4 linked regions of the Homo sapiens genome follow. The protein of the gene in region 1 purifies or fractionates together with the protein of each later gene. This does not show direct contact. Each region holds a gene or a part of one and is shown in the gene's direction. Other genes may lie near its edges.

Evidence for each region.
Region 2: the proteins of FGF1 (region 1) and TGFBR3 purify together in Homo sapiens (affinity purification with mass spectrometry; 3 studies listed by BioGRID and IntAct, with this or other methods). This does not show direct contact.
Region 3: the proteins of FGF1 (region 1) and EGFLAM purify together in Homo sapiens (affinity purification with mass spectrometry; 3 studies listed by BioGRID and IntAct, with this or other methods). This does not show direct contact.
Region 4: the proteins of FGF1 (region 1) and GPC1 purify together in Homo sapiens (affinity purification with mass spectrometry; 3 studies listed by BioGRID and IntAct, with this or other methods). This does not show direct contact.

Annotation. Positions count from the first base shown.
Region 1 is NC_000005.10:142,683,071-142,691,290, reverse strand, and holds the start of FGF1 (fibroblast growth factor 1 isoform 1 precursor), read left to right. Parts: upstream 1-5,200; 5' UTR 5,201-5,334; intron 5,335-5,587; exon of another isoform or gene 5,588-5,792; intron 5,793-7,476; exon of another isoform or gene 7,477-7,595; intron 7,596-8,220. UniProt on the Homo sapiens protein: Plays an important role in the regulation of cell survival, cell division, angiogenesis, cell differentiation and cell migration. Functions as a potent mitogen in vitro. Acts as a ligand for FGFR1 and integrins.
Region 2 is NC_000001.11:91,679,832-91,687,267, reverse strand, and holds the end of TGFBR3 (transforming growth factor beta receptor type 3 isoform a precursor), read left to right. Parts: intron 1-3,410; coding exon 3,411-3,529; 3' UTR 3,530-6,925; downstream 6,926-7,436. UniProt on the Homo sapiens protein: Cell surface receptor that regulates diverse cellular processes including cell proliferation, differentiation, migration, and apoptosis.
Region 3 is NC_000005.10:38,253,669-38,261,674, forward strand, and holds the start of EGFLAM (pikachurin isoform 1 precursor), read left to right. Parts: upstream 1-4,890; 5' UTR 4,891-5,086; coding exon 5,087-5,183; intron 5,184-8,006. UniProt on the Homo sapiens protein: Involved in both the retinal photoreceptor ribbon synapse formation and physiological functions of visual perception.
Region 4 is NC_000002.12:240,438,390-240,445,825, forward strand, and holds part of GPC1 (glypican-1 precursor), read left to right. Parts: intron 1-7,436. UniProt on the Homo sapiens protein: Cell surface proteoglycan that bears heparan sulfate. Binds, via the heparan sulfate side chains, alpha-4 (V) collagen and participates in Schwann cell myelination.

The DNA of each region.
Region 1 (8,220 bases):
GCCAACATGCCTGGCTAATTTTTGTAATTTTTAGTAGAGACGGGGTTTCACCATGTTGGCCAGGCTAGTCTCGAACTCCTAACCTCAGGTGATCCACCCGCGTCGGCCTCCCAAAGTGCTGGGATTATAGGCATGAGCCACCACGCCCAGCCTAAGTAAACATTTTATGAATACAATAATTTTGAGAAAGTAGTAAGTAGTATGAGGAAAAAGAAAGTGGGAGATGTAAAAAGACAGTGATAAGGGGCTGATTTAGAACGGGTGGTCAGGCTGCAGGTGGCCTGAGCTGAGACAAGAATAACAGGAAAGAGCCAGCCAGGCAAATAACCTAGAGGCAGAAAATAAATGCATAATTCTGGGCAGAGGGAATGGGAAGTACAAAGGCCCTGAGCTAGGACCAAGCCTGGCCCGTTATGAGGAGCAGGTGACTGGAGCACGGTGAGCAATGAGTATGTTGGGGGAGAACTTGCAGAGGCAGGTGGTGGTAGTGAGCTTGGCTTTTGTTCCTAGTGCAAGGGAAAGGCCCTGGACAGGTCTGAACAAATACGTACATGGTCTGATTTACCTTTTAGCAGGTTCCTTCTGAAATGAACTGTAGAGGGTTAGGGTAGAGCAGGGAGGCCAATTAGGAAGATACCCCAATACTCCAGGCAAGAAATTTGGTGCTTGGATGAACTAGACCAATGTGCAAACATCTATTATTAAGTGAAAAACAAACAATTACGCAGGACATTGTGCACAGTAATGTGTGTTTTTAGCATACACATATTCAGGGTACAAAGACAGTTTTCTTTCCTGAAAGGATCCATACATTCAAAGTGAATAGTGGTTATCTTTGGAGAAAAGAGGGTTAATGAGTGTCGTTTTATACCTCTTAGTGCAGTGTTATCATGTGCACAGAGTGTTCGTTTTAAGTAAAGGTAAAATTTTTTTTTATTTTTTATTTTTTCCCCAGACGGAGTCTCACTCTGTCACCCAGGCTGGAGCGCAGTGGCGCGATCTCGGCTCACTGCAAGCTCCGCCTCCCGGGTTCGCCGGGTTCACCGGGTTCACGCCATTCTCCTGCCTCAGCCTCCCGAGTAGCTGGGACTACAGGCGCCCGCCACCACGCCCGGCTAATTTTTTGTATTTTTAGTAGAGACGGGGTTTCACCGTGTTAGCCAGGATGGTCTCGATCTCCTGACCTCTTGATCCGCCCGCCTCAGCCTCCCAAAGTGCTGGGATTACAGGCGTGAGCCACCGTGCCCGGCCAAGGTAAAATATTTTAAAATTAAAAAACTAGGATTGAGGGGCCGGGCGCGGTGGCTCACGCCTGTAATCCCAGCACTTTGGGAGGCCGAGGTGGGCAGATCACGAGATCAGGAGATCGAGACCATTCTGGCTAACACGGTGAAACCCTGTCTCTACTGAACAAAATACAAAAAACTGGCCAGGCGTGGTAGCGGGCGCCTGTAGTCCCAGCTACTCCGGAGGCTGAGGCAGGAGAATGGCGTGAACTCGGGAGGCGGAGCTTCCATGAGCCGAGATCGCGCCACTCCACTCCAGCCTGGGCGACAGAGCGAGACTCTTGTCTCAGAAAAAAAAAAAAAAAAAAAACTAGGATCGAGGAAAACACAGTAGAATAGGCGACAGACAATCAATATTAGAGGAGAGGAAACCCAGCTCTCATGGGTAGGACCCTTCCCAAGCATCCTCCCCTGAAGTTGCTGAAGAATCAGGCTAACCAGCGGCGGGCAAGCGCATATGATTGGATTTCAGTGGGATCAGGGTGAGGCACCTTCCTTCTTGAGGGTCATTGGACTCAGCTTCTGTCCTGCAGTTCTGGTGATGTTTGTGGCTGGCTGGTCTCCTTGAGCAACGAATACAATTTCCCATGAATGTCTGCTGCATTTCCCATTGCCCTCTGTCATCGTGGCGCTTGCTTCACCATGAGACCAGGACACCCTTCATCTAACTGCCTCATTGGGCATAAACAGAGGGAAATGTGTTGCTGGAGGGAGAGAGTGGCATGCAGCATCCAATTTCTCCCGTCAGCTGATTAAGATTTGTTGTGCCTGAACACGGTCAAATGAGATTAGAAAGAAAATGCAATGTGTCTGGTGTGTGTTTCACATAACTGTATCATTTGTGTAAACAGGATGAATGAAGGGGAATTTTTAAGGCAAATATTGAATGTCATTCTCAAGAATCAAGGACAAGACACCAGGGCTTATGTTCTGCCTGGAGAGAAAAAAAATGTATATATTGGGGGCATTTTGAACCCTGTTGATTCAATAATGCTCTGCTTCTTTCATGCTGGTACAGTTAAAATGTGATAGTTATATGTCTGATTTTCAGAGACACTGAGCACAAAATAAGTAAAACCACAGAACCACCACATTCTACCTTTGTTGCCCTTCTAAAGCTCTTAGGAGAGGTGTAGAGCCACTTTCTGTAATAGCAGCTGCCTAAGTGCTCTGCATTGAGTCCATCTGTTAGGATGCGAAAGGAAAAATCTCACCTCTGGCAAGAGCCACAACATTTTAGATGTGGATGACTCCGGGGCAAGCCCACGTCTCTGTGGATAAACCTACTAGAATTTTTTTTGGTCCTCCAAACCTGTAATTTTCTTCCTTTCTCCAGGGACCCCTCTGCAGTACTAGCAGCCTCTCCTACAAGGTTTTATCAGGGCAGAAATGGCTTTTAAAGTGGTGTAAGAGCTTTGGAGGAAGACATGATTTCTGTTACATGTTCTGCATACGATCTAGCATATTGTGGATGCTTAATAAGCAGCTTCGACGGCTATTATTTCCACTGACTATTTCCAGGCACAGAGCTGGAGGGCTATTCTGAGACCAGACTTTTCGACTAGGTCATTGCAAAGTCCCTTCCTACTCTAAATAACAGTGGGGCTGAAAAGCATTCACATGATCATGTCTCCAGACTGGGAAAAATCTCAATATATGTTATTTAAAAGGTAAATCTAGATAGTAACAGAAGTTCAAATAAATGTAGAAATTGAAGGATATTATAATGAAATTTTAAAAAATTTCCACATTGGCGGGAATTATATTACAGTAAATACCTTAACTGAGGATTATTTCCCAGTATTTGGACAGTAATATTGCCAAACACCCAATATGCAGTAGATAAATTAGCATATGTCAGTAGCTAGGGATTATATTTGCCTAAAAGCTGTGTGTGTATGTGTGTGTGAGTGTGTGTGTTTAAACAGGGTTTCACAACTGGACATAATGGAGAAATAAAATAAAATAATGACTTGCATTTGCATTCCCTGCGTTCAAGGTGCTCGAACACACTTGGACACATTTGATTGTCATGATAATCCTGTGAGTTTGCAGGGAAGATATGAGTAGGAAAGTCTCATTAATTTCCACTAGGAGGGGGGGAATCTGGAGCCCTTGGGCTGAATTGCCCAACAATGGCCAACCACACAGTGCAGGCAGGTTAACACGGGGTTAACCTAAAGCAGGGAGACCTGGTTTTAGTCACAATGAGGACTTTAACTAAGGGTACCACCTGAGTGAGTCTCTGAGTCTGCATCTCTGTCCTTAGGATTTTTAGGGTATTTTCTAACTTTCAAGTCTATCATTTCACGTAGTTAAAAAGGGTTAACATGCATACTACATCTAGCATAATGATTCTTTAATACTTGGAAAACCATTGTCCAAAATATTTTCTTTAAGGATTCAGAAGGCCCTTTGGAAACTTGCAGATACTCAGGAAGATTATTATGTTTTAAAGCAAATTATCAGTATCCTTTGCAGGTGTAGAAGTGGTAGTTCATGAGGGTTCCAATTAATAGGGTCTCAAGAAATCAACATTTTCTGTATATTCAAGTCCCTTTTGGGAGCTGCTGCTTATCCGTGATTGGAGTTCTGTGATGATTGAGCCTCTAGCTCTTTAGTACAGGACACGAGCTCCTTCTCCAAGGCTCATCCCTTCAGAAGGCACATGGATGGCTTCCCCACACCCCCATGCTCTGTGGGGAGTGTGGGGAACAAACTGCAACTCCATCCTCTCTACACCTAAGCAACTACCCAGAGGAGGTAGAGACTGGAGAGCATATTTCTAGTTCTGACAGGTCGATCTGTACCTCTCTACCTGAATCATCAGGTGAGCAGGCTTGTGTACATACATGGGAGTGCATGCGTGCACACACACACACACACACACTCATGCCTTCTGGGCTCAAACGCCTGCATAAGCAGGAGCGACTCTTCAATTATTGGAAACTATTAATCATGTTTTCATTTGGTTTCTTCAAAGACAGCTCTTGATCCATATCCTTTCAGTCCACCTTATTCCCCACCTTCTAGCCAAAGAGTTATTTGTCCAGACAGCTCCCTCCCTTCCTTACCCTGTCCTGGCCAGAAGTCTAAAGAGGATGTCCATGGCCCATTGAAGAATTTCCCACCCCTGAAGTTGAGCTCACCTGAGGATTCACCTCATCCAACGGGGACAGGCTTGAACAGTGGAGAGGGAGGACAGAGCTGCCACCTCTGCAGCCCCTCGCCAGTCCCAACCTGGATGGCTTTTGCCTCGATTGACTTCGTAAAATGCCATTTGTAGGGCTTGGCTCTGGGGATGGCACAGACAGACACACACACGCACACATACACGTTGCCACACACAGACACCTACACCCCATGCAGGGATGCCAGATGACAGAACAGAAAAGGCCTCCCTTTCATCCAGCAGCCTTCTGACTCCAGAGGAGAGTCTCCGAGCCACGACCTGCTGTTTCCCTGGCAACTCAGGCCTCAAAATAAACAGGATTCTGCTCAGACGGGCCAGAAGTCCATTCGGCTCACACATTTGCCCCAAGACAAACCACGTTAAAATAACACCCAGGGTAGCTGCTGCCACCGTCTTCTGTCTCTACCTCCCTCCTGGCTGGCCAATGGCTCTGTGTTCCTGGGCCTGCTGCTGGCTGTCCAGAGTAGGGGTTGCTTAGAGCTGTGTGCATCCCTGCGGGTGGTGTGGGAGTGGGCGGTTGTCTAAAGGCAGGTCCCCTCTACTGATAAACAAGGACCGGAGATAGACCTAGAGGCTGACATTCTTGGCTCCCCCAGCCTACACCCCCCCCACCTCGATTTCCCACAGAGCCCTAGGGACGGGTAGCCAGCTCTGTGGCATGGTATCTGGAGGCAGGCCAGCAACCTGATGTGCATGCCACGGCCCGTCCCTCTCCCCACTCAGAGCTGCAGTAGCCTGGAGGTTCAGAGAGCCGGGCTACTCTGAGAAGAAGACACCAAGTGGATTCTGCTTCCCCTGGGACAGCACTGAGCGAGTGTGGAGAGAGGTACAGCCCTCGGCCTACAAGCTCTTTAGGTAAGAATCAGGGCATCTGATCTGGGAAACAGAGCAGGTTATAGCTGAGGTTGTGTGTGTGTGTGTGTGTGTGTGTGTGTGTTTTGTGTGTGTGTCCAAGTGCAAATGTAATGCTACTTGGAGAAGAAAGAAAATGTTTCAAGCAGATAGCACTGGAACCAGGACTCCTGCAAGTGAATCTCAAGAAGCTCACCTTTGGCTGGGTTTAAACCATGGTGCAGACTGCTCTGGGGGAAGGGCATGCTGATGTCACAGACATGTAAAAATAGTACTTCTAGTTTAGAGACTGCAAAAATATGAATGCACCATGCCGCCACATTATCTCCATTCCTCCAGTGCCCGCCTGACACTGGCCCTGAATCAGGGCTGGAGGGGGCAGGCATTTCTCATTTACTAAAGTGCTGGATGCAGCCCTTGAGGTTCGGCAGAAGCAGAAAGCTGCGGTGAGTCTGGCTGTGGTGAGTGTGGCTAGCATTATCGTGCTGTGTCACACTAGCTCTCTCTTGGGAAGCCTGGATATTCAGCTGCCTTGGAAAAGCTGTCCACATGGTGGGCAGCTTAGATTTTATTAACCTTTTGATATAGAAGTCAGGCTGAAGTTTAGGATTATCTGGGTGTGTCAGCTCAGGGTTTTGGTAGGGTGGTATTCCCATGGCCCCATGGTCACTCGGATTACTTCTTTCCTTCCTTTCTGATCTTGGAATATCACATCCTCGTTTCAGTACCCCTCCGATGGGCACTAGGAAAGAAGGAGTCAGAATGGACAGAGTCTCTGGCACATACACTATCCACACCCACATCACAATTACATGCCAAAGGTATGCAAGGCTGCTGCAGAGGAGCACTTCAGAAATGCAGCCCTCCAGATACTGAGATGGAAATTTCAGGCATTTAATCAAGTACGCACTTTTCAGAGACCCAAGGGAGGCCCAAGGGCTCACTCTGCCTCAGCAGAATTCAAACACTCCATTATTCTCTAGCTATGTTACATCCACCCACCACCCCACCACCCCCGCTTGCCTCCCTCCTTTCTGCACTGGTGACTGGCACTTTTCCTTTCATTCTCTACAGGGATGCGATTGTTTACGAGTTAGCTCCCCGACCCAGTGGGAGGACTTGAGCATCCCGGCTGAGGGCGAGCCAGGCTGCCCCTCCACCAGCTCTGTGTAACAGTGAGCCAGCAGCAGTGGCATCAGGGCTGAAAGGAGTGGGCCTCGCTTTGGGAAGTGATGTCTAGTGAAGGGTGGCCAGCAGTTTACTGGAGCTGTTTGTCAGTGTGGATGACTGAGGATTTTGGTGGAGACTCTGATTCACAGTCGCAAATTCCCTTTTCCTTTGTTTTCTTTGTGTTGGTCTTTGAGGGCTTCCGAGGAAAGTCCCCTCTTGAGATGTTGATCTGAAGGCAAGATCAACAATTTGCTGTTGGCAGAGGGACTCAGAGAGACTTTCTTCTGTTGCCCCTGCCTTTGTTAGTGTGAATAAATGGGTTTGCAAATGAAGTATGTAATCCAAAGCAAACTTAGTATGCAAAACTTTAAGAGAAAACACAATGAGTTTCTTTTAAATTCTCTCTCAAATCTGCTGTTTACATATGACTTGACTAGTTCTGCAAAGGATCAAGGAAGCCATATCTGGTTAAGTGGTTTGACTTTACAGGTGAGTAGCACCAGCCATGATGATAACATTCAGTGGAGATGGTGGGCGGACATCCATATGCCGTATCTACATTGAAGGGACATCTCATCTTGGGACAGTGCAGCCACTCACTTAGGTGACATGCATTCTGTGAACTACACATAAACTATTAGGATCTTGGGACTGCTGTTACAGGAAAGAGATCCAGACCCCAAGAGAGGGTTCTTGGATCTCAAGCAAGAAAGAAGTCAGGGCGAGTCCGCAGTGCAAAGCAAAAGCACTTTCTTTTTATTAAGAAAGTAAAGTGGTGAAAGCACAGCTGCTCCACTGACAGAGTAGGGTGTTCCCAAAAGTAAGAGGAGGAACACATCCATCCTAGGTACCATGCTCGTATATATAGGATTTTAAAAAGATCATGGGGAGATGTGCTCTGCTACAAGGGTTTGTGATAAAGGATAAAGGATTAATTTTCTTTTCCTTTTTTTTTTTTTTTTTTTTTTGAGACAGAGTTTCACTCTTGTTGCTCAGGCTGGAATGCAATGGCACAATCTCGGCTCACTGCAACCTCCGCCTCCCGGGTTCAAGCAATTCTCCTGCCTCAGCCTCCCAAGTAGCTGGGATTACAGGTGTGCGGCACCATGCCCGGCTAATTTTGTATTTTTATTAGAGACGGGGTTTCTCCATGTTGCTAAGGCTGGTCTCTAACTCCCAATGTCAGGTGATCCAACCGGCCTCCCAAAGTGCTAGGATTACAGGTGTGAGCCACTGCACCTGGCCTAATTTTCTTAATTACTATATTTTGCAAGAATCCATATTATCTTTAAAGCAAAATTAGGAATGCATTTGTTCTCAAAATATCGGGCTACCTGGAGACTCCCAAGTCTGAGTCTGTGTAGTAAACATTATCAATCTATTCCCTTAACCATAAATATCTGGAGTCTAGGAATGCCTAATTTTCTGGGAATGCAGCCCAGCAGGTCCCAGCCTCATTTTCCCAGCCCTCACTCAAGATGGAGTTGCTCTGGTTCGAACGCCTCTGACACTGTCAGCCTGTATGCTAGCTCCCAGGGGTTAGGTATTGTGCAGAGTGGACACACCCATTTCCACCTCATTAAATAAGCAGTGCATGGCTAATGCAGTATCCCTTGATTTAGGTTGCTGGAAAAATAATCTGAAGTTGTTTGTGCCACAGGCATACCATGCTTTAGGTAAATCTAACATCTATACATGTGGGTGAGAGTACTTTTTCTG
Region 2 (7,436 bases), on another chromosome or scaffold:
AGCTCACTGCAGTCTCTAACTCCTGGCCTCAGGAGATCCTCCCCCTTCAGCCTCCTAAGCTGGCACTGTAAGTGACTGCACCTGGCTTTGTTTTTCTATTTCTTGAGGCATCTCTGGCAGTATCTAGGCCCAGCCATAGGCTAACTGTGAGATGGGTGGAATTAATCCTTAGTGTCCTTATCCTCAGTGTACTCTCCTCCTCCAGAGTATGTCAGGCACCAAATTCCTCTCTCCCCTACTCACTCTCCCTCCTCTCAAATCTCTGTTCCCTCAATGTGGTTTGATATTTTAGGAGGAAAGCAGGAAGACTGAGTACATTTCCTCTGCTGGCCAAGTCTGATATTTATTTACAAGCAAGGCGCCCTCCTTGAATTTCTTAGATGTGTTAATTGGGCCTAGTCTGCTTAGCCACGAGGTCCTCCCTGCCCATCTCCTTTAGGAGCAGCCTTGTTATACTTGTCACCCAAGGGATGTTTTAGAGAAAGTTGGTGCTCCACGAAATCAGAGACCACTGCAGTGGAGAGCAGACAGCCAAAGACCCATCTCAGAAAACCCAGGGGTCTCTGTTGGCCCATTAAGTAGAAGCATCTGTACATTCAACTTTCTTCCTCATGGTGAATTTTTCTGTAGCATCACTTCCATTTGACAGTGAAAAAACTTAATCTGTCAAAAGGTAAGAGTTATTTTTAAAACATGGTTATATTGAGAAACCTTGCATCTTACATGTGAAAATAGCCACAGAACTGGAAAGGATGGTCTGAAGAGGGGACTTTCAATATTTCCCAGCAGATTCTCAGACAGAGACTCACCTTGGCCCATTATTGGATCAAAGTCAATATAATATTAGGTTAACTTGACTTATCCAGCTGGTGAGATGCATCCTGCAGTCTTGAGTGCGGAGGCTTCTTTGTTTTGTTTGGGGTTTTGTTTTGAAGTGTTTTGCATTACCAGAACAAGAGTTCCCAAAACTCGGGAAGTTGAAAGGTCTCTTTAATGGGCACGGATGAAAATAAACTGACATGGCAACAAATTATATTTGGCAAATAGACATCGGAAAGCAGATATTCAGGCTTCCTGGGCAGGGCATAGTCCTGGCACTTTTCCTGAATGTGAATAATCAAGCACAGGGCAGATCCTGGAGGAGCACACTTGCTCCCTATTGCTTGATGAAGCAAGGCCTTCTCTTTTACCTGCTGTTGGGCTGAGCAAACAAAGCCCAGGTGAGCCAAAAAAGAAAAAGATGGAGTTGGCCTCCTGCTTTTCAGATGTATCCTTATTAAAATAGGAAAAAATATTTTTAAAATGTGGTTCATGCATAGCCACATTAGTCCTTCTGATTGATTATGTGAGGATCCAGCTGGGTATGGACCAACATGTGGTTTGTAAGGGAGTCAAATTCTTAAAGTATATCTAGAGTTGTTTGGGTCTCTGGAGGTTGTTTTTGTTTTGACCTCAGAATAGTTAAGAGATTTGATTCCCTTCTAGAAATAAAGCTCCTACTCTGGGGAAAGTGAATTTTTGGCAGAAAGTTATTGCCATGGAGGCTAATTTCCCCAGCCTTAATTATACACACACATGAAGAGTAGAGGGCAGTGCTGGGGAGGGTCCAAAACATAGGTTTCCAAAAAAGTCAAAAGCAGTGTTTCAGCCGGGCGTGGTGGCTCACGCCTGTAATCCCAGCACTATGGAAGGCCAAGGTGGGCCGATCACGAGGTCAGGAGATCGATACCATCCTGGCTAACACAGTGAAATCGTGTCTCTACTAAAAATACAAAAAATTAGCCAGGCATGGTGGCACATGCCTGTAGTCCCAGGTACTCGGGAGGCTGAGACAGGAGAATTGCTTGAACCCGGGGGGTGGAGGTTGCAGTGAGCCAAGATCATGCCACTGCAGTCCATCCTAGGGGACAGAGCGAGACTCCGTCTCACAAAAAAAAAAAAAAAAAAAAAAAGGCAGTGCTTCTCCGCTTCTCAGGAATATTGACCCCAGTCCCCTATCCATCCCGCCAATCCCAGAAGAAAAGATAATTAGAGGAAGTACAACAAGGGCCAAACTTACAACAAGCACATAAATACTTTGAGGTTGATGCAAAAGTGTGTATAGCTGTGTGGTTCATGAAAGGGGTGACAGGAAAAGCTGTAACCAGACCCAGGGACATGAGCCAGTTCTACATTTTGCAGAACTGCTTTTTTCACAGAGGCTTTTGAGGGGCCCCAGAAAGAGAATGGAAGTAATGGGGCCAAGTTCCTGCACTGGAGGGCAGGGCCTTTCCTCGAGTGTTTTGTTTTAATGAAGCAGCTGGAAGGGTTGCTTATCTCCGGCTGATAGATGTGTATTTCAGCATGACAGGAAAGAGGAGGCTCATTCATAAACAGGCCTGGCCCTCTGGGGTTTCCCACATTGAAGGAGGGGATGCTGCTTACAAGAAGTTTATGAAGTTTATGCTCTGACTTTTCAAAGTAAATGCAGTGTTTTTTATTGGAGAGCCCTGATCGCTTTTCCCTACCTAGAGCCATTTTTTGAGGGTTGCACTGAGGCCGGTTTTGCCGAAGAGAAGACTAACTCTAGGGCCTTTTGCACTGTTAAATGCAAACCATGTGTGTGACTTGAGGTTTCCTTCCTCTCCAAAGCACTGCACATTTGGCACGATGAATGGCTTTAGCTAAAATGCAGTGGGGTGTGTAATGAAAAGTGGGATGCTTAAAGTGTTAGGAGATACTCACACTGCACCCCACAGGGAACCTCAGTGGGGAAGAGAGGCCATTCGCTGGCAACTGCAGTCCCCATGTGCAAACAGCTAAACCCCTTCCCCAAAAGGTTTTTCCAATAGCAGCTATCCCCCACCCCGGTTTCTCAGGTAATTTATCTGTTTGGCACACAAGGCTCTCTCTACTGTAGCTAGGACAAAGTCTATATTTCACTCCTGTTTTTAACAAGTGCATTCAGAACAAGGCTCCCAAACTTCCAGGGTTCTCTTAACTACAATTGAAAGGTCACACCCTCCAAATCCTACAGTGTCTTTATGAGAGAAGATGGACAGTGTTTCCTGAATACAGGTGCTGGTCAGTTGCCAGCTCACACAGACCAAGTGGTGGTGATTTCATCAAAGGTTGTGGACCCTGAAATCCAGGGACTTTGTCATCAACTCTCAGGGGTCTTAGCCACTAGAGCTGCCTGTCAGTCAGCTGTCTTCTTTTTCCCATTCATGATGCTTTAAAAATAAAACAACAAATAGCAAAACCTTATTTTAGAAGGTATTCCAGCCATCTAGGACCTAGTCTAGTTGCTTCTGCCCTGGTTGAGAAAAATATCAGTTAAAATGGCAAATGCGGAATAAATGATCTTTTCAGGAATGCACATACATAATATGCGTCTTTCTCTGACTCTGCCTTTTCTTTATTAACTGCAGGGGAGACAGCAGGAAGGCAGCAAGTCCCCACCTCCCCGCCAGCCTCGGAAAACAGCAGTGCTGCCCACAGCATCGGCAGCACGCAGAGCACGCCTTGCTCCAGCAGCAGCACGGCCTAGCCCAACCCAGCCCAACCCGGCCCAACCCAGCCCAGCCCAGCTCAGCTCAGCTACTGCCAAGGGCAGGACCAATGGCTGAGCCTCGTGTCCAGACTCAGAGGGCTGGATTTTGGTTCCCTTGTAAAGACAGAGTGAATTTCAGTATAAAGATCACCCGTTGTATTCACCCCACACCCAGGGCTAGTATAAACATGACCCTGGGCTTCTGTACCACACTAGAATTCATGTGAGAAAGCTAAAATGGTGGTCTTCTCCACCAGCCCCTCACAGGCTTGGGGGTTTTCAATGTGAAACACATGCCAGTTTTTAAAATGCTGCTTTGTCCAGGTGAGAACATCCATAATTTGGGGCCCTGAGTTTTACCCAGACTCAAGGAGTTGGTAAAGGGTTAATAGCCAGATAGTAGAACCAGTGAGGAGATGCGGCCAAAGATTCTTTATATCTGAACCAAGATGTAAAACAAGAAATGCTTTGAGGCTTTCTAAGCGATCCTCCTGTCTAATTTGCACCTTTGTCTGGATGCACACTTCTGACCTTGCTGCCACAACCTGTGGGGTCTGATGTGTCCCTTGATGGGTGCTGCCCTCAGGGACTGCACCCTGACAAGTGTTAAGGCAACATTCCTTTCTTGTGCCCTGGGCCAAAACCAATGCTGATGACCTTATCAGCTTCCTGTTTCTTCCCATACTTGCATACACCACTGCAAAATGTCTTAATGCAAATTTTGTATTTCTTACAGGCCTACAGAAATTGAAAATGACCAAAATCAGGAACCACAGATTTGTGCCCATTCCTAATATTTTGTTCTGCAAATTAATGTATAATTTGAGGTGAAATTCAGTTATAAAGTCAAGGACGAATTTGCACAGTGATATATTTCTATGTGTATGCAAGTACAAGTATATAATATGTCACCTGGCACATTCATTTTCTCAGTTGAAGAAGAGAAAATTTGAAAATGTCCTTATGCTTTTAGAGTTGCAACTTAAGTATATTTGGTAGGGTGAGTGTTTCCACTCAAAATATGTCAACTTAAAAAAAAATAGGCCCTTTCATAAAAACCAAACTGTAGCAAGATGCAAATGCATGGCAAATCCTGTCGGTCTCCAGTTGGTTATCTGAATAGTGTCACCAATTCCACCAAGACAGTGCTGAGATTGGAAAAGGGCACTCATTTGGATTGCCTTACTTCTCTTGCCTTAAATATATCCCATATATTTAATATGTCAAAAAGGGCTTGAGGTGAATTTCATTAAATGGAATAATATGATGCCACTTTGCAGCTAAAATAAGCTCAGTGATACCTCCTTGTTAAAAAAAAAAAAAAAAAAAAAGAATGCCAGGGGGGAATTATCATGCTAAATTATTTTACTGCTGAAGATAGCTTCATTGCAAATTATTCTTTTTCCAGAATTTCCCCCAAACAACTTAGAATTCCATAAGTAGAACAAGATAGATTCTACCCCCAAAATATTCATAAGCAAATCCCACTGCCCTTAAAATAAGGAAGTTATGCCTGGTTGTCTGTGAATGGAACCTCAGTAGGTAATCCTGATGAAGCTTAAAACCTTAGGGCAGTGTCTACATGGGAAACAAGTATGTGGAAATTGACAATCATTTTTACCAAATCGTTGAGTAATAATATGACTTACCTGATAGATATACACATTCAATAAGGAACATTTTTTTTTTTCAATAAGGAACATTTTAACTAAAACATTACTTTAGGGCTGAGATTTCCAGGCTATCTACATTGATCTACTGAAAAATTTCTAGATTTCCATATACAAACGAAGAAGACATGAGTTTAGAGAATTTTTTTCCTTTAATTTTTTTTTAACAGAAGGGTATCAGAGTGGAGGACCTAGATTACGCTACCTGTGTTTGAAAATATTGCGCTTTGCCTAACCTTCGGTGGAATGTATTGTTTCAGCATATTCTATGTATAAAAAAGTTTAAAGATGTCTTCAAAGAAGACTAGAGTCTTTAAGTCACTTATAGCTATATTTTACTACAAAATTTGTGTATAAAGATATATTTAAGTGTTTTAGATAAATTTAAGTTACTCCATATGAAATGTTTAATTTCAGCTACTGTGAATTCTTTCGATCAGTCCTTTGCTTTTTTAAAAAATCTTTTCCATCGTGTTAAAAAGAAAATTAGCTATTAGGAGATATTAAAAGATTGATGTCTTAGAAGGACAGGGTTAAAACCTTCTGTAATATATTTAAATATATATTTTTAAGAGAGATGCTACATTGCCAATGATTTTATAAATAATTTAAAATTAATTTACAAATTTATAGATGCAAACCAAAAGATCTTTTTAAAAGAGAGAGAGAGGAAAAAAATCACCTTTTATTTGTTTGGGTCTCATTGTCAGAATTATTATTCAGATCAAGAAATCTGTGTCGATAAAACCTAATCTCATATTGGAGAGTGAATGTCGTTAAGTATTTCTGAAATGTTTCTAAAAAATGAACATGAAAAAAATAAGGTATTTTCTCCCTAGCTTCTCATTACAGTATTTCTAATTGCTTCACACTTTACAGTTTTAATACAAAGTACAAGCTCTACTTTTATAACGTGTACTACAAGTTTCTTTAAAAGTATTGTTGTATTTCAGCTGAACTCTTGTATCTGCAGTCTTTTGTTATTTCTGCAGGCTACACCCTTAATTTGCAGAGGCCATTTTGTTGTTTGTTTGATGCTGAAGCTGTTGTTAAAATGCCCCAAACTCCAAGGCAGATTGTCTGTATAATACGCTATAGCTTTTCACCATGTGGTGTTTACCAGCTGTTACTCTGTATTTTAAAAAGCCAGAGATTTCTTCTGTCTAAACTGTTTCTATAGCATTTTCTAAACAAAAAAAATGGTTTTTTTCTTTGCCTTGTAATAAGATTGTAAATCCATTTCCTGCTTGTGTTCTTAGTGGGCATGATTGTGAGTGTGTGTGGGGTGCTCACACGCGTGCCAGTCTTTTTGTACTGTAACTACCTCATGGTTTGAATGATGATTGTACTGCTGGTTGTGTTAACAGAGCACATTTTGTTGGGTGAGTCCTATGTGATTTTTTTCATGTTTGTTTTATCTGGGGGTTGTTCATGAAACTGACAGATGTTTTTCTAAAAAGGACTATTATCAGTTTCCAAATACAATACTTCTCTCTTCTGGTTTTTCCTGAATGAGCCTGATTTTGTTGCTGGTTTTCATCATCTATGAGGGTAAAACGAGTACCCTTAAAATCCCTGTGGCCAGTTTGAACACCCCTGTTGTATTCTTTTCTCTGTTCAGTGTGTCAGCTATTTTGTGAAGATGCTTAGATGTATAGTTTTGATAACCACAGTTTTAAATCTTTTATCTGTGCATAATAAAAAGATATATATCAGTTATTAATATGTGTCTTGTTATCATTAAATTCTACCCTAAGGCTCATGTAACTTTTTTCACTGTGACTTTCTCCTGAATGGATCGTCTGCTCCGTGTTGATGAGGAAGTGGGAGGAGAAAGGCTAAGAGGTCCAGAGCAGAGGGAAGGGCGGATGGACTAGAAGAAGAGTGCAGCAGGAGCTGTCGCTCTTCTCAGAAAAACATGGCAGGAGACTTGGAAGTGGGTGTCTCACCCTGGAAACCATTCCTGGGCCTTCTGTCAATCTCCCAGAGTCAAAGAAAGAAACATAATATACATTTAAGGTCTACTATTTTCAGCCCCTTCAAATACCCCATTGCTGCTTCCAGCATTCCGTATCTCCATATGGTACCACCGTCTTCCAGTTGTCCAAGCCAGAAACCTGGGAATCTAACTACAGCCTCTTTGGCTCCCCTCTTCCCAAATCAATAAGTCCGAGTGTTATTCTACCTCTAAAATGTCTCTTTCTTCAAACCACTGACTTATTCCTACTCTGACT
Region 3 (8,006 bases), about 100 Mb from region 1:
CTTTGATGGGAGTGTATATGAATATAGCCACTTTGGAAAACTGTTTGACAATACCTTCCAAACCTAAACATATGCCTATCATATAACCTCATAATTCTGCTCACAGGTATACACAGCAGATACACATACATATGTCTGCCACAGACACATACAAGAATGATCACAGCAACATCTTCGGTTGTAGTTCCAAACTAGAAACAACCCAAATGTCTATCAGGAGTAAAATGGATAAACAAATTATGATACATTTCTATAATGGAATACTACACAGCAATGAACATGAATAACCACACAACTTGGATGAATTTTTTCAAACATAATGTTGAGTAAAAGAGGAATAAGTGATTACATTACTGCATGATTCCATCTATATAAAGTTCAAAACCAGGCCAAAATAATCTAGGTGCTAGAAATCAGGAAAATGGTTACCTATTTGGTTGTAGGGTAGGTTACAGTTAGTGGGAAGAATGAAAGGCTTTTGGGGTGCTGGTATTGTTTTATTTCTTGATCTGGGGGTTTATTACACGTTTGCTTTGTCAGTGCAGTCCATTGATTACATACTTAATTATAATCAAGTATAAGCAAGGAGGACATAATGCATAGCAGATGGCTATGCATTATACAGTATCTTATTATATATGTTATCATTTGTAATACAGGGTCTTTGTCACTCAACCCAATAGCACATTATTTGCACTCTTATTTAGGGCTTCCTTTGTTCTGCTTTATGGAACAATTGACAGTGCAACTGTCTTCGTCTCCCAACAAATTTGTAGTCTTCTTGAGTGCAAAAAATATTGTTGCATTTTCTCTAATATATTATTTCTGTTCTTAGCACAGAGACTTACACATAATGGGATTCAGTCTCAATGTTTGTTTTACATTGGTGTAGGGAGAGTGTTTACTTATTTTTACTGATCTACTTTTATTTGTGTGTTTTAATTAAAGGTAAATGGGAGGTTAGAATTCTCATCCCTCATCCTTCTTCAAAAATACACACTTCTAGAGAGGAAGCATGAAGAGGGCTTTGTGGGGGTGCTGGTCATATCCTATTCCTTGATCTGGGCAGTAGTTAATAAAGTTATACAAGTGTGCTCACTTTGCTATAATTCATCAATTGGTACACTTACTATTTGATACTTTTGTATGTTGCATCTTGATTAAAATGTAACATATAAATATATGTATATTTATATTTCTAGTTTGATAAGACACTACGTTGGTGAGAGTTCACGGAATTAGTTAGGCACATATACTGCTTATTGGGGAGTAAAATAGTACAACCTCCTTGGGAGGAAATGTAGCCAAATTATCAAAATTGAAAAGGCATTTACTGTTTGACCGAGCATGGTTAGTCTAGAAATGAACCCTACAGTCTACTATAACATGTGCAACTTATTACATATTCAGTGTCATTCATGCCTGCTGTTTATAATAATTGGAAACAACAGAAGAAAGAACAAATAAATTACATATCACATGTAGAATATTATTCAGCAGTTAGTAAGAAGGAGGCAGATCTGTATCTGCTGATTTGGAAGGATCATCAGGTTAAGAAGTACGTAGAAGATGCTCTTGGTTGCGTTAAATATATGTGTATATAATTAGCTTGTCCATTCATAGACCATCTCTAGAAGGATATCCAAGAAACTGGTGATGGTAGAAGGAAGAAAAGGAAACTTATTTTTCACTATACACTCTGCCTGATCTGCATTTCAAATTTTACATGTAGATATAACCAATTTAGAAAAATAAATCAAAAGATGATTCTTGGCTGCTGCCTCTTTGTCACTCTCATTTAGAGTCTTAATAAACATTCTATAATTGATAAGTTTGCCTTTACTTTCTTCTACCAGCCTCCAAATCTATTCCATGCAGCAAAGGTCAGATTCCTCTTCCATGATAATGAGCAAAGTAGGCAGGTCACTCTTCTGCTGGTGACCTTATTAATTGAGTTTAGACCTCCAGTGAATTTGAACAGATTTTTTTTTTTTTAATGAAACATTCAAAGCCTCTTGGCCCCTCTTTAGTTCCCCTCCTCTCAGAAAGCAGGAAGAGAGTGAAAGGCAAGTGTTCTATTTGTCTTTAGTCAGATTTACAAATGCCATAGTTGGTTTTCAAACTGGAAGGAGAGGGAATCTTCCAGTTCCCTTGGAGGATGCGATTTGAACTGCAAAGGAAGGGAATAAGTTTAATGTAACATGTGCTCTAGATTTGAAGCAGATTTTGTGAAATAAGGTCTTATCTCAATGGCCTGATGATCCAGAGTGTTTGCAGGCCCTCAGAGGTAAAAATACAACAGTATAATCTAATGTTGTTTTTCCCCAAGGAAAAAACAAGAGGGGTCTCTGAAGAAACCAAGCCTATTTCCCAAATCGCCTATGGTCATCTGCAAAAAAATGGAAGGGAGGCCCAGGGCCAGGGATGCCGAGGTGGTGTGGGCACATGAGGAGGACATTGGCAAGAAGGCTGCCCAGGCTTGCGAAATTTGCAGTGGACAATTTGCACAGGGTCTGTTAAAAGGCACATGCAGAGTAAAGGTAGCTTAGATTAGATGATGCTGTTTTATCAGCTATTAAAGAGAAAGCAAAACCTGGAATTTACTGATTGTTTCGTCCAGCCCATTCATTTTTACCAAGGCACACTATACGCAGAGCCTAGGATTAAACACCCACATCTCCCGATCCTCTCAGTCCACTGCTGTGTTTACTTTCCACATTGTTCTCTCAAAAGCCTGAAAGCTGGAATCAGACCCCTTGGATTCAAGCGCTGCATGGGAGCTGCATGACCTTGGGCAAGTTTCTTAACCTTCCCATGCTTCAGGTTCCTCACCTGTAAAAGGCGAGAATAGTAATGACAGTATCTTCCTGGTATGGTTGTTATTGGGATTAAAATGCACTTCAAAGAAGGTCTGGTACATAGGAGACCTTAAATAAATGGTAGCCATAATATCAACGATTATTATTACTTCCAGTTTCAGCATCACAGAGAATCATTTTTAAGTAGGAAAGCCTGCATGGGAGGCATCTGCATTGCAACACTCGCTTGGTTCTGGGTGCCACATTAAGTCCGAGATAAGAAATCACTTTCGCATAAAGAAAGGCCTCTAACAACTTCTCAGCTGGCGCTGGAGGAGCTCTCTCACACAGGTGGAGTTCAAAGGGAGGTGGCACGACCCGACACCAATGCTGAAAGCAGACTCCTGCGTGGAGTGGAGGCATGGCCTAGATGACCTTTAAAATGCTAAAAAGTCTATGATTTTGAGACCTTTGAGACTAGCAGCCTTGGGGGCAGTCACTTTGCTTAGCTTAGTGGCCGGCTTTATGGTCACCTTGGACGTGAAGAGCATAGTTCTGTCTGAACTTTGCTCCAGTTCTATGTAAGAGGACAAGCTCTGGTGTCACAGCTAAAACTTCCAAATACTCAAGTTGGAGGGGACTTTGAATTTATTTGTGAACAGACAATTGCACACTTGAAAATGCCAACACATAAGGGAACACACTCAGCTTTGCTAACTAACAAGATTGAGCTCATTACAAACTCTCCAGCCAGGGGATATTTCATTCTTAAAAGAGGAGTAGAAATCCTGTGTGTGTGTGTTTGGGGGGCTGGGGAGGGGAGAAGAATATATCAGTCAACATTGTTTCCTCCCGCGCTCCCAAACATAGGCTAACTGTGAAGAGCCAGGACGCCCACCGAGTCCTGGCAGCGTTGCAAGGTGGGGAGGGGGCGGGCGCGGTCCTGTCGCTAGTGACTGCAGATTTCCTCTGCGGGGCACTTCCTACGGCCTTTGATCTTTCCCCAGGAACTGCCGAGGGCCGCGTTTGCCTCTAAGTTTATTCCCTCTTGGTTTATTTATTGTATCTGCTTTCTCTTCTCGCTGGTTTGGAGGTCAGAACGCCAGTATGCAACGGGACTTGTGTCCCAGGCAGGGTCTCCCCTCTCCAGGCACTACCGCGAAATCTGGCAAAAGGTACATTTTACTGAGTCCTAGGGCAGCAAATTCAGCGGCGGAGAAAGAGTCTTTCTCCATTCAGGAGACAACCCAGGAAGCCCGATCCCGGGATCAGAGGCCAGGACCCCGCCCCGGCCCCCTGCCCCAGGCCCAGCTGGGCGCCGCCCAGGGGCTTTTCTCGGTCCGCCTGGGGGCTCGAGCTCGCGTCCCTCCCTAAGACGCCAGGCTTAACTTGGAGTTTCATCTCCTCCCCAGGAGGGTCTCAAGTTGCCTTCCTCTGCCGGGAAGGGCCCCCACTCCCCCGCTCCAGGCCCTAATCTCCACCCGGCGTCCCAGTCTGAGCGGCCTGGCCTCAGCTCTCCATCTGCGAGCCTTAAATCCCATTTATCTTCTTAGCGCCTCAGACCCGGACGGTCCCGCCTCTCTTCCTCTCACCCCCACCCCACTTGCAAATCACAGACCCCCGTCTACCCCTCGCATCCCCCAAGTGCGCTGGACCAACTACAGCAACCTTTGAGGTGTTAGAAAAAGTCGCCTAGAGGGGCGCGGCAGGAGGAGGGCCCAGGTGGGGTGGAGGGGGGGCGCCCCAAGATTTCAGGGTGAGGACCGCGGAGGGTCCTGGACCCGCAGTCGCCTAACTCCTGCCCTGCGTCTCCAGTGCTTGAAGTCGGTCCCTCCCAGGTCCCCAATCTAGGTCACCAGCGGGGAAGGGCTGCGCTGGGGGTCGCTAGAGAGGGTGAGGGGCGGGCTGTCTGCTTCCGAGGTGGGCGAGGAGTGAAGGTTTCAGGGCCTGTCCCTCTCACTTCCACTCGATTGTAATTTCATCCCCGGGCCGGTCGAGCCTCCCTCCCTCCCGCGGCCAGCCCTTCCCTCCCAGTCGGCCTCCTTCGTCGCCCCCGCCCCCGCGAAAAGCCCTGCAGCTTGCAGCCGGCTTCACTCGCGCACGCCGACCTCCCGGCTGCAGTCCTACCTCTTGGAACTACCCGTGTTTCCGGGCCCAGCCCTCGCAGCCCCCCACCTCCTCGCCCCGGCCCGGGGATCCGTTGGGGCCGCGTCCCCCACGCGCCCCCGGAGACGCCCTTTCCGTGTGCGCCCGGGACTTGGTGAAACTTTGCAGGCGCCGGCTGCGAAATGGATTTAATCCGAGGCGTCTTGCTCCGGCTCCTGCTCCTGGCTTCCAGCCTCGGACCCGGCGCGGTGTCGCTCCGAGCGGCCATCCGAAAACCAGGTAATGCGCTCCTCCGCCCAGAGCCACCACGCCCCGAGCGCCCCTGCTGGGCTCCGGGGCGAGGACACAGAGCGGGCAGCGCACCGCCTCCCTCTCCCCGACCAACGTCTGCTTAACTCGCTTCAGCTCTGCCAGGAGCTGAGAAAAGACGCAAACCTCGCCCTCCCCCGAGCCCGGGCGGCGCTAGGGATATTTATTTATTAAAAGAATGATCAATTTTCCAGACATAGTAGATAGAGGTGGTGGTCCCCGTGTTTGACCGCAGAGAGCTGACAGTTGGGACAGCGATCGTGCTGTCTCAATTACAGAGGATGGCAACCATGCAGAGGAGTCAAACCAGCCCCTCCTGCGTCTCCAAACATTTTACTCAATTCATATTGTCCAGAGCCCAGCCATTTCCTGTTAAGTGTCTGAAGGGTTGCCTGGAGCCCCCTCTGCCCATCTCGGGTCCTGCCCACGCGTTGTGCAGGGATGTGGACTCTGCTCTTAGCATCCTCTTCCACTCTGGGGCCATTTGTTCAGAAGGAAGCACCCAGTGGGTTAATTTTACCGTGTTTTGAACTCCTGTCTTTGCTTTGGCATTTAAACAAAGAAATGTACGTTGTAACCTGTTATAAGGGACTGGGAATTGGGGGAGAACTTGAAACCATAATAACGTGTGTTTCCTCTAGCTGCATATAGGTAAAAAGTCTTCGTTTATTTTGGTCTACTTTGATTTGGCCTATGCTGTGAGATTATTCAAAGTAGAACATTCTGAACAATGAAGTTCTAAACATTGTTTCCCAAATAACGATTTTTATTACTTTTTGCTGGGACCATATTTAGAATTCTGAAAAATCTGTTTTGTCTTAACTTACTTTGTAAGGGAGGTTGTCTTATGGGATTAATTATATCTTATGAACAATGGAAAACAATATTACTTTTATTTGAATGCAGTCTGCAAAACCTCACAGAAAGTGCAGTTTGTCTTCACAAACGTTTCTGTAAGAAAGAGGCAAAGCTAGGAAAATTTATCAGAGGGCAGAGAAAATCGTCTTAGCGGGATCCCATGTGAATGCTTAAATATTTTCGCATTGAAACTCTCTATCTGGAAATATGACTTGTTGCATTTCGGCTCTGGAAGCGTCCTCAGTCTTTGCACTGTGTCTCTTATTACCAGCACTTGTTACCTGCCTTGAAATCTAAGGTCATTATCATAATCTACACCATATTTAAATTATGAGCCACTCCATTTATGAGCTCTTCAATTCATTTTGGAGATAATAGCTTCAGTCCAAGGTAATATCACATTAAATTGTTTCTCTTCCTGCACGCACACATACATATACCTTCAAGGATTTCAGTGAAGGGCTTCTTTCTAACTTTCCTCCTTAAGATAACCACATCACGATCAATTGCATTTTGCAGATTTATTCACATGAAATCATCTATTAATTGTCACAATTTTTAAACAAAGCATAGTTATATCTATAGTTTTAAAGCATGAACAGTGTATGCAATGCTTTTTAAAGGATATATTTTAATCCATTTAAGGGGAATTTTTAAAAAGCATTTTATAAAAACCTGTTGTATAAAACTGCTCATGTGGGTCATCATATTTTCCTTCTTATTTTTTGGAGTTCTTCTCCTAAAAAGATTTTCTACCTGGTTCATTCAGGGTCTCATTCTGATATTCATGCCAGGAATATGCCATGCTGGCCTCTTTGGTTTTATTTGAAGCATAGATAGGGTTTTGATAGTGGAAACACCACCTCTTAAATACTTTGGCATATTAATTACATCAAATTTGAGATAGAAGTGTTTAGACTAGGTTCAACCTAGAAGAGTTTTATTTTTATTACTTTATAATTTTATCCAGACACTAGCTTTCAGGTTGGAAAGCTTCTCAGATTAAAATGACAGCTACTTCATAACTTCAGGGGAAATTTCCCTCCTGGGCTCATTTACATCCCTTGGAAAGACTAGTTTTTGATCCGGAAAATTGGTCCAGATTAAAAAACTGAATGTGCCCTGCTTGGCTCTGATGTGAGCAGCAACTAGCTAATTTATAATCTTCCCCAGACACTAGCAAATCCTGCTAGTATCCATATGGGAGTTTCTTTGTACCTTGTTTCCTCAACAGAAATTGGTACATAGACAGTACTTTGAAGGTATCGTGGCCACGGTGCAGGCATACTGGAGCGGTTCTGTCTTATTTGGATGACCCTCCCTATCTCCTCATACTCCTAAATCTACTTTTGATAAGTATAGCATTGTTGGAGAAGTCTTGGATTCAAAATCAACCTGGAAATTCCCCATCCGCACCTACCTCTGGTGAGAAAAAACTGAGTAGCAGCTTCAAGTCTGAGTCTAGTTTGGGTTCAACACAAGCAACCTTTCTCTTCACCCCAAGATAGCTCATCTTTTGACATTGAACATTAATAAAGAAACCTCTGCATTTGCCAAGACTTACAAGAAATGACAGTTTTCAAATTAAGTGAAATTAAATCATAATAACTAACACTAAGTGCTTGCTACACTGTTCTAAGAACTGGATGCACAGTGATTTATTTAATCAACCCAATAGCCCTGGGAGATGGGGACTATTATTATCACTGTTTTACTGAAGGAGAAATTGTGGCTTAGAGAGGTTAAATATCTCATCCAAGGTCACACAACTAGTAAGCGGTGGAATGGAAATTTAAACTCTGATATTCAGGACCAGAAACTGAGCTCAGAACACTGTGTTTGCAGAGGTGTGTAGCATGTCTTGTAGGGTGTCTTCCTGGAGGCTGAAGAGTGGAGCTCCCGTGGGTCAGATATTGGAGCCTAGGTGGAGGCTGC
Region 4 (7,436 bases), on another chromosome or scaffold:
TGTCCCCTCCTGCTTTGTCGGCTGGGCCTGGGCTCCGTGGAACGGGCGCCCTCTGGTGGCCCCTGGGCGGCAGATCCTCCCAGGAGCCCTGGACCCTCTGTGGCCTAGTAGGCACCATTCTCAGTCCCCTCTCTCCTGCATCCAGACTTCTCCAGGGGGACCTCCTCAGAGGGAATGCGAACCCCCTGGGGTTGGGCACCTCGCTGGCCCGGAGCAGGTGGGGTAGAGATCTGATACTTCCTCGTGGGAAGGAGAGCAGTTGGCCCTGGGTGTGTGGCGGGCCTTCCCAGCCTCTGCCCCAGGGACCAGAAAAGGCAGTGGGTGACAGGAGACTTAGCTCATGAAAGAGGGCAGTGTCGGGACATATTGGGCTCCCTTTTGAGACTTCCTTTGTCCTCTGGACAGCCAGGCCAGGCTGCAGTGACAGCAGTGGTCATCCCATTTTATGGGCAAGGAAGCAGGCCTGGGTGCCACCAGCTGGACGGTGGCACTGCAGCAGGGCACCCGGCCACCCTCCCTTTATGCCAGGGCACGGCACAGAAGGCAAGGGCGGAGCCGAGTGGCACCCCGGGTGCCCCTGCGCTGCCAGGAGCCCTCATGCTGAATCACTGCCCGCGTGCCAGCAGGCCTCCTGCTTTTGCTTGCAAGGTTGTGTCTGGGCATAGGTGTTCCCAGAGCACCTGTCTGGCCTCCTGATGTCTGATGTGATGTGATGTGTGTCTGTTTGCTCCTTTGCTGGGGTCTCAGCGCCCCACCTTGGCACCTGAGCTCCCTGGTCGCTGGGACCACCTCTAACTGTTTCCCTGTTGTAGCCACAGAACCCGGCTGGCTCCCGGCCCAGGATAGCTTCTCGGAGGACACCCCCAGGCCTTCCTGGCTTTATACCTGGCTGTGCTGGGTGGGGAGCGGGACATGGAGGGTAGAGGAGGGTCTCCTTGGAGCAGACACCCCTGTTCTCAGGGTCTCCCAGCCTGAGGCAGAGGAGGGGCCCTAAGGTCTAGTTTTGGGGGCAGAAGTCAGAGTGGGGCATGGGACTGTCGGTGGCACAGAAACTGCCCAGCCGCTCCTGTGCCCAGAGTGGCAGCCCGCCTACCAGCTGGAGCGGGCACCAGCGTGCCCTGGAGCCTGTACCAAGCACCCACTCGTTGGGCCCCTCCGAAGGAATCTTTTCTTCTCTGTGCCACTTTTGACCGCCTGGGTGGTTGGCACACAGACTCTGGGGAACCATCCTCAGAGGGCCTGGACCTCTCCTTCCCACATCCCTGAAAGGGTGTTTCCGGCTGGGCCCGGGAGAGCCCACCAGCATCTGCTTCTCAGTCCTGCTCAGCGGGCCTCTCGGAGGCTGCCTGGCACACAGCCCCTCACCAGACCAGACAGTTCCCTGTGCCCTGTCCTGTCCAGGTGGCTCAGCGTGGTTCCCAGGTGGTCCTCAGCCTTTGCTGTGTCGCTGCTCTTCCCTCCATGAGAGGAGCTCATCATCCCCAGCGTGAGGACCGAGCGGAGCCCAGGGGAGCCCTGATCCGACAGGGCCACCTGCGTGATGCAATGGCCTGGGTCCCTGCTGGACCGCCAAGCCTCCCATGCCAGGCAGGCCACAGCACTCCTCAGGCACAGATGCCCCCACCCCCATCCCATCCCCGGTGTCCCCGGGCCTTTTCACAGGAGAGAAAGGGAATAATCGTGACCTCCTGTGAAGGTGGCCAGGAGGGAGAAGGTGCTGGGGCTGTGCACCTCGTGGGCAGCCTCGGGCTGTGTCCCCCCTCTCCCCGGACACCCTCTGCAAAGGCCCACACACACCCCTCTCAGTTAATGGCATCCGGTACCCTAAGAGCACTCATGAACCCGGGTGCTCTTAGAACACGGGGAAACCCGGCTTGTGGAGCGTTTCCCATGACTGTCTGGTTAACACATCAGACGGAAGGGGTCTTTGTAGACCTGTTTTACAAATGAGTAAACCGAAGCCTGGTGAAGCGCTCCTCTTAGGGCCAGATCTGGCTACAGCATTGACCACTGCCCAGTAAAGCCAGGCCAGGCTGCTTGTCCCAGGCTCTGCACTTCTTGGAAGGCTCGTGCTTTTCCCAGCCCGCTCTCCTGTCCTGGGCCTGGGCTCCATCTCTTAGGCTCATTTAGAACGTTTAACCGGGACTCCTCCTGGCCTCCCTGCCTCCGGTCCTGCCCAGCTCCTCCTGGCCTCCCTGCCTCCGGTCCTGCCCAGCTCCTCCTGGCCTCCCTGCCTCCGGTCCTGCCCAGCTCCTCCTGGCCTCCCTGCCTCCGGTCCTGCCCAGCTCCTCCTGGCCTCCCTGCCTCCGGTCCTGCCCAGCTCCTCCTGGCCTCCCTGCCTCCGGTCCTGCCCAGCTCCTCCTGGCCTCCCTGCCTCCGGTCCTGCCCAGCTCCTCCTGGCCTCCCTGCCTCCGGTCTTGCCCAGCTCCTCCTGGCCGTGCCGCCCAGAGAGTCGTACTTCCACACAGCTGGGCCTCACCCTCCGGCCTGGCTCCACTGCCTGTGGGGGGCAGGACTGCTAGGAGGGCTGTTCCCAGCGTGTGCCACGAAGCCCTGCATGTCCCCAACAGGGCAGACCAGCCACCCACACTGGGCCAAGTGCCCCAGGATTAGTGGACAGGTACCCTATTCAGGTGCCCACAGGTGCCAAGCCAGGGAGATAAGGCAGTCCAGTCTGTTGGGGCTTGTACCTTCACACCAGCAATCTCTAGGGACAGTGTGAGCCTGTGGTTAACGCGCCTTCCCAGGTACCGAGGACGCCTCCCTACAGCAGGACGGGGGGCATACCTACCTGGTGGCCGAACCGCAGGGCTGCACATCAGACCTCGGAGGAGAGCTTAGTGGGTGTCTGAGCATGCCCATGTCTGTTCTATGGCATCCATGTGCATGGCACAGGTGTCAGCCATGGGCTGGCACTAGACAGGAGACGAGCCAGGGGAGGGGCTCACCCGAAGCCACACTGGTCAGGTCTGGCCTGGGGCCCCACATCTGCCGTGCCCGGGCCAGTGAGAGGCTGGACGCCTTTTCTTAAGCCAGACCGTCCTCACAGGGCCTGGCTCAGTTATTTCAGATCAAGACTGGACCCGTGGTGGAGGCTGGGGTGGGCACTCCTACATGCGGGGCCTCTGCCCAGCCCTGGCCCTGTCCAGTGTCGACGTGCCCAGAGCCCTGAGCCGGCCTGGATCTTGCCAGTCGCCAGCACAGCCCTGTGGGGCCCGGGATCTTGCCCACTTTACGTGGGGGCTCCAGACAGGAGCCGCCTGCCCGGAGCCTGGGCTCCTCGCTGCCGTGCCTGTGGTGGCTTTTCTTTGTCTGGGAACAGGCCTGGGCAGGTGCCCTGAGCCGCTTGAAGTCTCCTGACGGGGTGGGGGGTGCAGTGTAGGGTGTTGAGGCTTGGGCCAGGGAAGCGGGCGGTTCTCCCTCCACCTCCAGGCCCCACACCCAGGCGGGAGCACGCAGCAGCCAGGTGTTGGGTGAGGGCTATGCTGAGGAGCAGGGCCCAGAGCTGCAGCCTCCTTGGCTGCCCTTGGCCCGCCGTGGGTGGCGGGGAAGTACAGGTGTGAGGGGCATACCCCACTGCCCCAGGCTCGGTAGCAGTCTGGAATCCGGGTGGGTTTAGGAGCCCCTGAGAGGGCCAGGCCAGCCTCACACCATCCCCTCTCCTGCCTGTGGCCTCAGCTCCATCTCCCGCCAGCTCCTGCTGACCCACCTTTCTGGCACACCTGTCCCCTCCCTCCACGGTGTCCTCCCTGTGCCCACCCACAGCACCCGCCTCCTCCGGCCTTTCCCCACAGCTTGACTTCCCGGGCATCGGCCAACACGTACCCTCCCTGTTGCCGGGGCCCCCGCCTGGGCAGGCCTGAGCTCCACACAGGGTGGGGAAGGCCCCGAGTCCCTCCCGGTACCGGGTGGGGCTGGGTGCCGGGGTTGGGAGCACAAGTGTTTCCAGGGCTGTCGGAACAGTGCCACAGGCTGAGCAGCTGCAGCTGCAGACATGGGTCGTCCGTGGTTCTAGAGCCTGGAAGCCTGAGATCAAGTGTGCGTCCACCAGGCTGGCCCCTTCTGAGGCGTGAGGAAGTCTGCTCCACACTGCCAGCTTCCAGGTGTTCCTTGGCTGGTAAATCCCACCTTGGCCTCCACAGGCCGCTCTCCCCGTGTGCGCTTCTGTCTCCGAATTCCCCCTCTTCACAAGGACACAACTCTAATTGGGTCAGGGCCCACCGGTACCATCTCTTCTTAACGAGAGGTGTCACACAGACTCCACACCCAAAGTCACATCCTGAGGAATCGGGGTTAGGCCTCAGCCATGTGGGTTTTGGGGGTACAGTTTAGCCTGTAGTGGGGAGCTAGCCCAGCCCGGCACACCTACATCTTCCCATCAGGTGGCAAAGACCCCGAGGCTCTGGGTGTTTTGTGATTGTGGCCTCCTGAGCACTGGGCCGTGTTTCTGTAATGGGCTTAGAGCTCAGCACAGATGTGCCCGAGACCCTGGTGACAGTGTGAGGGAGTGACCACGCCCCAGCCTGCCACTCACCCCCGTCCACCTGAGGCGCTCTCTGGGCACAGCCTGGTCCCCACAAGCCTGGGAGGCCTCAGCGTCAGGCCCTGCACAGCTACTGGGTCCTTGGCCAGCCCCTCCTGCCGTGGGCCTCCGCTTTTCCCTCAGGTCCGGGTGGCAGGGCCGGGCCACTCAGGTGATGTTCCAGGTCTAGTGGTACAGCAGTGGCTGAGGATGCCGCCGCCTGTGCCGTCACAGAACTGGGGTGGGGGGCAGTGGCCAGGCTGGCCTGAAAACCTTCTCCAGGTTGCGTTGCGGGAGCCCAGGCTGGGAGAGTCGTGGTTCAGTGGTGTGAGTGTGCCTTGGACAGGCCCCAGTCTCCCACTTGTCAGGGGGCAGAGCCCTTCAGGTGGACTTTGGGCGGGGAGGCAGTGGGACTGCAGGGCGAGGGTTTGGAGATGTAGAGATGAGGGAGGCCTGGGGGCCAGGAGGCTGCACCACTGCTGTCTCCTGAGGCGGTGGCTGGCCGAGGAGGCCCGCTGCTCTCTTGTGCTGAGTGCCCCTTGGGTCCTGCAGGCTTGGCAGGGTGACAGGGCAGCCACCCAGGGGCTCCACCTGTCCTGCTCCTTCAGGAGGAGGAGACCTCCCAGGGCTGTGGTGGGGAGGAGGGCCAGCCACAGAGCCACTGCAAATCATCCCTGAGGCCAGGCGACTCGGAAGCAGAAACCCTGAGCCCAGCACGGGGCAGTGGGAGGTGAGGCCCAGCGGCATCTGTGAACTAGGCCTCCTGGTGGGCTCTCAAGGTCTTTGATGGGGCGCAGCCGGTGGACAGGGAGAGAAGGGTCCCTCTTTCCCCAGGCCCTCCCTCCCCTGGTCCTCTCCCACCTTTGAGGTGCCCCAGGAGTTCCCAGAGTCGGCAGCACCAGGGGCTGTCTACCGGGTGGGCTGAATACCACTTAGTTTGCAGATGGGAAAGCTGAGTCCCAGAGAGGGGTTCCCAGGGCTCAGAGCTGAGAGGCCTCGCCGCCTGGGGCCAAGCCCCACACTTGCTTGCCGAGTGACTCACTCCTGCTCTGGGCCTGGCTAGCAGGGGTGAGGCTGGGTCAGAGGATGGGGAGCTGGGCCAAGGCCACAGACTACCCCGCAGGTGCAGGCACCCAGAGGCCTGAGGGGCACCGGGAGCGCACAGGAGGGGAGGCTGTGAACACGGCCCGGCTTCTTTGCAGCTCCGTGTCGGGGCCATGTGAGGACACACACCGCAGGAGGGCCCGGCCAGCCTCAGCCCAGCCCAGCCGCCACGCCCGGTGGGTCTCCTGAGGTCAGAGCCAGCCCCACAGTGGGCACCACATGCCCGCCTGCTGTCCTGGCTCCTCCTGAGGGACAAGGGTGAGCTGGGCGGGCCAGGAAGTACAACGCTGCTAGGCTTCTGCTCTCGCCCCACAGAAGTTCAGGTTCTACTGAGAAACTTGGCTGGGGCTTCCGGGGACTCCCAAATCCAGCCGCCCAGGACCCTGCGGCACTGTCCATCCTGAGCCCCGTCCTCACCCGCTGGTCCATCCTGGGGTGATGGATCTGGCTGCAGTGACCCCGATGCTCTGAGGCCCAGAACAGCACGTCTCCCTCCTGGGAACAGCCAAGCCTTAGGCCCATGCAGCAGCGACCGGATCCCTAGCCTCCCCGGCAGGGGTGCTTCCTGGGTGCGCCATCAGCAGTGGGACCTGTAGGGAAGTCTGTGGCCTGTGCGCACCTTCAGACGATTTCCCCAAACACCGACGACAGCTGTCCAGTGCGTCACAGAGCTGTGGCCTATGGGTGATCGTCTCAGCCTGTCCCTGCATCTGGTGCAGCCTCAGTGCCCACTGTGGACCCCGCAGCCCACCCGTGTCTGGCGCATCCTTGGTGACTGGGGCTCCCTGTGGCTGTCTGATCCCATCCCTGTGGTAACCCATGTGTGACGTCCAAGTGTCTCCTCAAGAACCGGGGCCAGGAGGCCCATCCTTGGCTCTGGAGACTGCAGGGAGAGCATCCCACCCACCTGTGACCATCTACCAGGCCCTGGGGACAAAGCTGATGCCACCTGCCACCAGGGTTGGCTCAGGCGTTTACATGCATCTCCAGTTGTCATGGAGCTTGGGACACACTGGACCCAAGGAGGTATTTTAAAAGGACAAGTCTCTCACGTAATCCAGCCCCACTGTTCCTGAACGCGATGCCCCCTCCCCGAGCCTGGCGGGGGGCTGTACACAGAACACTGCTCAGCATCTTCAGTCTCCCTCCTGTGGCCTCACACCCAGGATGGTAGGTGTTAGAACAGGTGCCTCCCTGTTCTATGTGCGTGGCCTCATCCTGTGGGCAATTTGGGGTGAGGGGTGGCTGCAGGTCAGACAGATACCTGGGAAGGTCCCCTGGGATAGGGTGGCTCCCAAGCGGGAGCAGTTGCCCTGGGCACTTGTGACATCCCAGTGATTGAGGAGTGGGGGTGCTCTGGTGTTTAGTGGGTGGGGCCAGGGAGCCCAGTAATCCTGCAAGATGGAGGTGCCCTTCCACAAACGCCAGTAGCACCCCCAAGAGAAATACTTGAACTGAAGCTATAGGCAGAACCACGCCAGGGGAAGAGGGAGCTCAGGGGAGGGGGCACCACTCAGCGCCAGGTGCTGGGATGGGAGGAAGGGCAGACTGTGGTGGCCAAACACCAGCATGCAGGAGGGTTGTTCTAGATGCATCCATCCTTCTGTGGGTGCACGGATGAGGTTCTGGATGTAATTCATGGGCTTCATGAACTTGGCTGAGAAAGAGATTACATCTCCATCGTTGCTAACCTCTAACCAGAATTTAGCATTTTTTCTTACTCGGAACGATGGTGTTCCGGGACCTGGGGCTTGGTCACCAGTAGACGTCGCCGCTGTTTATGCCCCTCCACGTTCGTAGCAGACAGCTT